Regions from separate parts of the Homo sapiens genome. Here all the other regions are linked to region 1. Evidence: fine-mapped expression QTL. A gene starts in region 1. Each other region holds a variant in brackets. All regions are shown on one strand. Distances are between the middles of the regions. Region 1 holds the start of SPP1 (secreted phosphoprotein 1). Region 2 has its middle 17 kb from the start of MEPE. Region 3 overlaps MEPE (matrix extracellular phosphoglycoprotein).

Region 1 (2,769 bases):
TTTCATAAGGAATAGCTGACATCTTCATAGGTTACAACAGTGATACCTTTTTATACTACCACATTACAAAATGATCACAAATAAAATATATTTTCTATAGAATCTTTTCTACTTCTTAGAGATGCCTTTTCTTTTTAGTATTATAGTCTTTCAAGTTAATATTTATATTGCCACCTATTATCCATCTTTCACTATTAGGCAAGGGAAAGGGAAATTTTGCAAGTCTGTATTTATTCAACTTTAAAATTTAGAGTTCCAGAAATTATACCATTACTACCTTATATATCTAGCTCTCTAAACCTACAAACAGATCAACAGTAACTTAATTATATTAATAAGCTAGTATGGGAATATTTTTTAGAGAAGAAAAAACTCACAGAAAAAAATGAAAAAAATTTGCTTTATCCATTTTTCCAACATGTACTTTAAATGTGACTTTTAGCTTAATTATCAAGTAGGTGCTACTTAGGTGAAATCAAACTATCTCTGAAATTTGTTATTTAAGTAAGATGTTCTAAAAATTTGAAATTCAAAGGAAAACATTGAAAATAGCCAACAGCTTTTCTATTTGTAATAATAAGCCTACACAGTGTCATACAGGTATCTTGGTGAATATTTTAACAGCTAAATTTAGCAGTGGCATATTCAGAAAGGGTTTTCTTCCCCTTAAAAGTGAGATACATCATTTAAAAAATAGCATTGTAATTGGTTTAATTAGCATAAAAGATCCCTTTTCTTTTAAATTCCTGCACAGTCACCCACTGAAAATTATATAGGTATAATTATTCCAAAGGGGAATTTAATTTTACTATTTTCTGATTAGCATCGGTGGTTTCCGTTCTTTTGAGGACCCAGTGGAAGTATTTTTAAGTTTTAAATTTGATTGGCATTCAAAATATCTAGACACCTTTGTTCCAGGAGACCTGCAATGTATCTAATCTGCTTATTAAAAAGGCTAGAAAATTTAAGTCTGTTTAACAGCATTACAATTAAAAATATTTTTCCTTAGAATTTGGACTTCCCCATGAAATTCAGCTGAATGCACAACCCAGTAGCAAACTGAAGCTGTACCTTGGTCGGCGTTTGGCTGAGAAGGCTGCAACTGGCCTGAGACGAGTCTGGTCCCGACGATGCTGTGCTCTGCCTCCTCCTGCTGCTGCTGACAACCAAGCCCTCCCAGAATTTAAATGCTGCTGCAGACATCCTCCACCAACACAGGGAGGCGGAGAGATTGTGTCATGAGGTTTTCTGCCACTGCCCAGCCCACCTGCTCCCACACTTCCCCCTCTGGTTTTGTGGTTAAAACAAAAAAAAACAAAAACGCACACACACAATCTACAGTTAAAACATTACTTATGTACAATATCATTAACTAGCTTTTTCATTTACGGGATGGGCATTCAGCATCCAGGAAGAGCACTTAGGGATCCCATGAAAAAGGGAGAAAGTAGGGAAAAACATTAATGTAAAATTAAATAGAATGGATTTTTGTTTCTTTCGGTTTAAGTAACATAAAGGTAATATCTGCAACCACTCTTGCCTGTATGATTGTACTTATTGAAGAGCCAGAAGGCTATTGTTCAAGCCTGCAAGGAGTTCAGAAAACTTGCCTCTGTCCTTTACTACTCAAGCTTAGCTTTGTGATTTCGAGTATGCAGTAGCTTGTTACTTAGACAAATGGCACTAGTGACATTAAAATATAAAATTCTATATGAAATAGAAGAATGGTAATTTATTCTAGATGTTGCAGAAGTAAAGCAGTTTCTGACTGAGAGCAGGATGACTGCTTGAGAGGGCTGCTTCAGGAGCCAGACCGTGGTTCTGAATTCCGCTGTGTCACTGCTGACCTGTGCAACCTTGGGCAAATCGCCCAGCCTACCTATCCTTGTTCCCTCATCCATGAAATGCAATACTATTACCTAGGTCATGGGGTTTTTGAGGGGTTTAAATGAATTAGTATGTTAAACTAGCAATGCTTAGCACATATTAGATGCAAATGCTCTGCGTATCTTAAGGACTATATGTGTGTTAACTATTATGAAATTTTTAAGAGGGGCAGGCAGTCACGAATTGTAATGTCCTTTAAAAGAACAGGTTATTAAAATGAGAGTAGACGTAAGATCTTTAAATTGTATGCATCAATAAGGAAATTTTGCACATTTCTAAAGGAACAGATTCGATTTTGGAATCATCTTTTTTTCTAGTTTTTCTCCCAAGGTATGTAAAGTAGGCCACTTAAAAAGAAAAACATTTTTAAAAATTTCTGTATTAAAAAACACTTTACTAGGTATTTAAAAGGTGTCTGAATGAAAGAAAATTACAGGGAAAGTCCGAATATTAGAGCAGAATTCAGGGATAGCAGAGCTCTGGGTCCTTTTAAAATATTTAATATTGCCTTGAGATTACTTATCTTCATTTGCTTTCTCAGTTGTGAAATGCAGATTGCACTATTTATTTACCTTACACCTTTATTGTTAAGACTTGTGTGTAATTGAGATGAAAAATAAATGGTCCTATTTATTATTAGGTTGCTGCAAAAGTAATTGTGGTTTTTATTAGTCCTAAAGTGTCAGCTTCCTTTTGCCAAATATTACTTTTAATATAAATATAGATTAAATAATGTCTTGCAGTGATAGTGTATAGCTAATTCATAGGTTTCATGAACATTTGGTAGGGGGAAATATGTCTCCCTTAAATTGGATGTATTCCAGATGAATTGATATGATTGGTTTGTAGGTAATAAGCACCCATTTTAATAAGTAAGATGAC
Region 2 (2,769 bases), 130 kb after region 1:
CTGGCATTATAGGCCTGTGCCACTAGGCCTGACTAATTTTTGTATTTTTCATAGGGATGGGGTTTCACTGTGTTGCCTAGGCTTGTCTCGAACTTCTGACCTCAGGTGATCTGCCCCACCTTGGCCTCCTAAAGTGCTGGGATTACAGGCTTGTGCCACCAGTCCCAGCCTTGTACGTTCACTTTAAATGATATTTTTATTATTTGTTGATATAAGATAATCCACAAAGACAAGCTATTTTTCATCATAAACTGAAACATTCCTGCAATGGTAGGTTAATACAGGGGAAGTTCTGGACTAGCTATAGATTTGTGGGAGACCCAGGTGACTGATTTGAAGGTCACTGGGAAAGACATCCATATTAGTGATTTCAAACTTTGACTTGCATTAAAATCATTTGAGGGACCTGTTAAAAAAGGAAATCCCTGGACCCCGTTCATGGCCTTATATCACAAATATTACTCCATTCACTTATTAATGCAATGTGTCTAAGATCTGCCCCAGCTGGCCTGCTCAGAATTACCTCTTTGCTAAATAGACAACTTTCTTTCTTCACATAGTATTATGTTGGTGCAAAAGTGATGACTGTTTTTGCCATTAAAAGTAATGGCAATTACTTTTGAGCCAACCTAATACTTCTATCTTCCTGATGCTGTTTTAAGTAAAAATTATTTAAGATTGTTTGACTTCTATTATTAATCTGTTAACCTAACAATTATAAAAATCTACTTAAAATTCAAATCTAGCAAGAGTCACTTCTAAACAGGGAGTGTCTGTGTTACACTAAACCATATGCCTACAAATTGATAAAGTATTATTCGTTTAATGAAACAGATCCTCTTGTTCTTATTCTCGAAAGTCTAAACCATAGCTTCAGGTAGATTTTCTTGCAGCTTTTGCGTGAGTCCACTCATTGTTTTTGACATTATTCTCATTTGGATTTCTGGATTTGGATTGTATCGGTGTTTTGTTCTCTTTTCTTTCCAGACTTCCTCATTAAATTTTTTCTAACCATTTATCTGCCCCTTTCTCTTTCAGCCCCCAATTCCTATCTTCCTGACATGCATTCAGACTCATCTATTTCTTCTCCTTTTCCTTTGGGCCGTCTAATACCATATTTTAATGCCTGTGACTGTAAGTATCATTCTCTTGAATAGCAGAGTTTACCTTCTCATACAGAAGTTGTTTTTGAAAGGGACTTCTGTAAAAGCATCATAATGTCTTTGAAACTTACGCTGTCTTGAGCTCCTGCTTAGTTAAAGGCAGGCCCTAAAGACAGAGTGAGGAGATAACACAATGTTTATTCTAGACC[G/A]CAGAGAAAGTCTGTTGAGCAACTTCCTCCTGGCTGGTCTTCTTCCTTCCAACTCCCCTGAACCCTACCTTGCTTACCACTCCTTCCCCATCCACTGGTTGGGGAGAGCTATCTTAAGCTCTAAACTACACATGGGATCACTTAAGGTCGCCACTGTGAAGCTCTTATGTACTAGTGAGGCTTATTGTCTGCAGCCTCTCTACATGTGTAATACGTTGGGTAAAATAGATTTTACTATCTCCTGGCTCTTCCCTTCAGCTAGAGTTCATCTTCTCAGAACTCCTGTCTCACTTTACTTATATTTCTATTATTTAACACATTCTGCCTTGTATCTTTCGTATGACTTTCTCCCTACTTACTTATAGTTTTGATAAAGACCAAGAGCATCTCTTCTTTTGATCTCCAAAGAATTTTGTAAAAGATGGTCGTTCAATAAATACTTTTCAACTGAGCTAAATGTTATTTCAGACAAGGTCAGATATGTTACCCTGACTGGTAGACGCGCCAAGAACAGATTAATTAGTATTGTAAAATCAAGGTAAATATTTACAAGCAGAGAAGTCCAGGAAGGTGAGGTTTGAGGGAGTACCAGGGCTGCACGTAAATAACAGAACCGGAGCCTGCTCGCAGACTGGTACAGTGACCTTTTCTTTTTGAGCACAAGGTGGCAGGCTAGGTCAATTTCCATCGTCTCTTATAAGGCAGCTACGTGAGGCTGAAGTTTTTTGCCCAATTTCAGAAACAGATATCTATTTTTTTTTTAACTGAGATTAGCGCAGCCTGATGGCTAAAACATGGTTTTGGATAAGGCATGGGCCTCACTCTTGACTACTGACTGTCCTTGTGGATCTCTGGTCCTTTGTGTTTGGACTAATTCCTCCACGTCTGCATCAAATAGCAATGCATTGTGGATGCCAACACACTTCTAGTTTCTGTTAACTGGATGAAAAAAATATGAACATTGTCAGTGTTTTGAAGAAATATCCATGAACACTGAAGCTTAGAGAGAGGAAACAAAATCGGACCAGAGAATTGAAATACGCAGTTTCTCCACTAGATAGCAGACTACGACAGGTGACTTTTGGAAGGGTCCATCTGTATTTACCCAAAGAAAGCATCCGTTTTTCTCCATCAGTTCATATTTTTCTTTTACCACGACAAGTGTTTTTATGTGATCAGACCATTCGCATGTAAAGCTCTGATATAAACCTGAAATATAAGTAGCAGTTTGATTTCAATTTATTAATCTGCAATTTAAATTCTGATAGAGTTTTTTTTTTACTTCATTAATTGCCTCCAGTTTTTTTTCCCCCAAATTGTCTTTTATTTTTTAAAAAGCAAATTACTAGGAATAGTTTATTCTGGAATTCTGATGGTAACATTGGGTGATATGTTCAGTCTTTCCCTTGATTCTGACCTGTTATTTCCAGAAGATAGGGAACAAATGAGGGAAAAAA
Region 3 (2,769 bases), 130 kb after region 1:
ATGATAGTCATGTAATTACTGGATACACAACGGTTTTCCCAGTCTCTGGACTTCTCTAATATTGGTTGTAGAGGCAGATGAAGATGGACAAACTCTGGACCCCCCTGCTCTTGAATTGCCCAAGTGTCATCCTCGGGCTGTGTGTTCTGTAAGCTTGTAGCCGTCGATGGGATGTTATCTGAAATAGATTTTGATTGGACTCTCTCTTTTTTTTCACTCCCAAACAGAAGTACTGTTCTGCTTGGAGGACTGTCTGCTTTTATATATGTATCTTATTAACTGTTGGAAGTAGGCGGAAATGTTGAATCAGCTCACATTTGAATCTAAAATAAAAATGGCTTTTAGAAGTGCCCTCTACTTTTAAGAAGCTAGCTAATATATGGTCTGCAAAAGTGCCAATGTATAATATTTGTAAAATATAATTTGAAATTACTTATTTGTAAAAGTTATGGCATTATTGTTCATTAATTTTTTAATATTGGTGGGTATATTCTGAAATACGATTTTGCCATAAGAAAAAAATAGAAATAAACTTTGTAGTATATCACTAAATAAAAAGTATTTTAAATATTTGACTTGAGTAATTGAGTCCTGGAAAGTTTTACTTGGACATTTATGTTTTCCTTTGCAATCAAGTTCATTGTTGTTTGTTTACTCATTACTAAGATAACCTTTTGAGTTAAACACTAAATCTAAACTCAGTAGATTATAATAATCTCTTCCTAATTTTTTCTCTCCCTTGTCTGAAGTGGGAAGTTATGTTTTATTTTCGGTGCTTCTCTGCTTTTAAAAAAGTAACATGTACACTAATGAATTGTGTGCATTTTATTAGAAGACTGAGTAGAATAATTTTATAAATGAAAACATGAAACAACTTTTATCCTGTGGTATATGATGGCTATCTTTGCATTGAAGAAAATATCAAAAAATAGAAAAAAACTTTTCTTACATTTGCTTGTGTTAAATGATTTCTGACTGTTCGATGGTTTATGTACCAGTTGGCTGGCTGCTTTTCTGTGCTCTGCTTTTCTGTCTCCATGCTTTGGTTCCTATGAGTTTTTTCATGGAGAACGGCCTCACCCATTCACTTCTGTTTGCTCAAATCCTACTCATCCTCCATGGCCCCACACAATTATTTCCATTATGAACACCAGAGGCCAGGAACTAATTTCTTTCTACTCCAAGCCCTTAAAGCATGATCTTTTTTTTCTTCTCGGTACTACTCACATAGCACCTCCCACATTCTGTCTTGTTTTACAATAATTTTTGTAAGTGCCTTTTGTTTCTTTTCTAACTCTAAGATCCTGGAGAGAAAGAATTTGTTTTCTCCATCATTTT[A/T]TCTCACATAGTATCTTACACACCAGTTAAGAACTCCACATATATTTGGCAAATGGATATGTTTTAACTTATTTATAGTTAGGTGTAGTCTTAGAGATGTCATCTAAAGGATATCGATGGCAGAAGAAAATAACATTCTGAAGGGAAACTATTACTTCCATGGGAAATAAAACCAGATTTGGAAAAAGTAAATAGCCCTTTTGCTGATGGCATTTCAAGCTATTTCCAGCCCTTTGGCCGATGAATCTACAAGAAGGGACTGAGTGAAAAGAATTATTGTCATTGTAGTGACAAGGGCCTCATTCTTTTACTTCTGAGCAACCCAACACAGATGGAGTTATCCATAGAATGAATTTAAGAGACAGTAAAATGTGTCACTCATTAGGCCAAAATGGTTTTTCCTCTTAGCCGTCCCCTGCTGAGATCCCCACCATCAGAGCATATGGTAGAATATGTCAAGAAAACTTTCTTATAAAACACCAAATGTTACTCAGAAGCAGTAACACAGCAGTCCATGGGCACCTGAGGTCCATGAGTATCACACCTGCAGCCACAGGTCCTGAAGCAGAGCGAGATGTGGGCCGAGGCATGGGATGGGGATCAGGAAGATTCTGGGACCCAGAGTTTTGTAGTAGAGAGGCTTGAGGAGCCTGGGGAGGGAGGGAAGGGACAAAAGTGCCAGCCATAAGACAGAAACCCCAGAGCAAGCAAAAGTAAACTTTGCCTCCCCTACATTTTCCTCTAGGGCTAGTCCAGAGTTTAGTCATGCTGAGAATGGTCATTCAGAGATTCAGCTTACCTTTACATCAGTTTGATTTTTCTTCTCAGGTGACATGTAAACACACTTAAAAACATAATGCCCATGTTTCTCATAGTGACCCTTGTATGTTATCTACAAAAACACAACATTATATTGAGGCACGTTTTATCTCTTACAAAGAAGTTTTTGGGCTCTTTGTAATAATATAAGAAACTTTAAAAGTTGGGTGAAGTTGAATTCTACCTCTGACAAATGGTAGTACTTCTTATAACCACAGGAGGGTGTGTGTCAGCCGGCTCCCGAAGACAGCAACTTGTTCCTTCTCTTTTCTACATAACTCTAAATCTGTTTTCCCTAAGGGCCTGTCAACTGCTTTCTGTCCTAGGGTGGATCGATTTTATTACCAAACGTCTATGGAAATGGAGCATGTGGAAATATTTTCAGGTGGGAGGGGGTGAGAGGACCAGGAGAAAGACAGGATTTACAATATTCATGTCTGATGTCTAATTGGCAAAACTCACAGCATGAACATTCAGGCTCTTAAGCTGGCAACGTTGGCCTTTGTAATTTTCAGCTGAGATGAAGTACAGAAGATTGTTAGTTCTTAGAACATAATTTTCTGTGATAGGCAGAAGCAAGCTGCAATTTGGTGGCATGCAAAGCGGGGAGGA

Evidence for each region. PIP is the estimated chance that this variant, and not a neighbour inherited with it, causes the effect.
Region 2: its variant is fine-mapped to the expression of SPP1 in whole blood (TOPMed, PIP above 0.99).
Region 3: its variant is fine-mapped to the expression of SPP1 in whole blood (INTERVAL, PIP above 0.99).

The regions. Positions count from the first base shown.
Region 1 is chr4:87,974,103-87,976,871 of GRCh38, reverse strand. SPP1 (secreted phosphoprotein 1) reads right to left here and starts at 1,158. Exons shown (of 7, transcript NM_001040058.2): 1 at 1,072-1,158. RefSeq lists cis regulatory regions at 1,163-1,172, 1,207-1,216, 1,391-1,406, 1,844-1,852, 1,919-1,927 and 1 more, enhancers at 1,185-1,255, 1,018-1,517, 1,880-1,900 and promoters at 1,072-1,285, 1,075-2,162, 1,162-2,769.
Region 2 is chr4:87,848,390-87,851,158 of GRCh38, reverse strand. No RefSeq gene overlaps it. Among named protein-coding and RNA genes, the nearest start is that of MEPE, 17 kb to the right of the region's middle. The variant G/A (reference allele first, on the strand shown) is at 1,313.
Region 3 is chr4:87,839,146-87,841,914 of GRCh38, reverse strand. The region is part of intron 3 of MEPE (matrix extracellular phosphoglycoprotein); the gene reads right to left. Among named protein-coding and RNA genes, the nearest start is that of MEPE, 7.6 kb to the right of the region's middle. The variant A/T (reference allele first, on the strand shown) is at 1,339.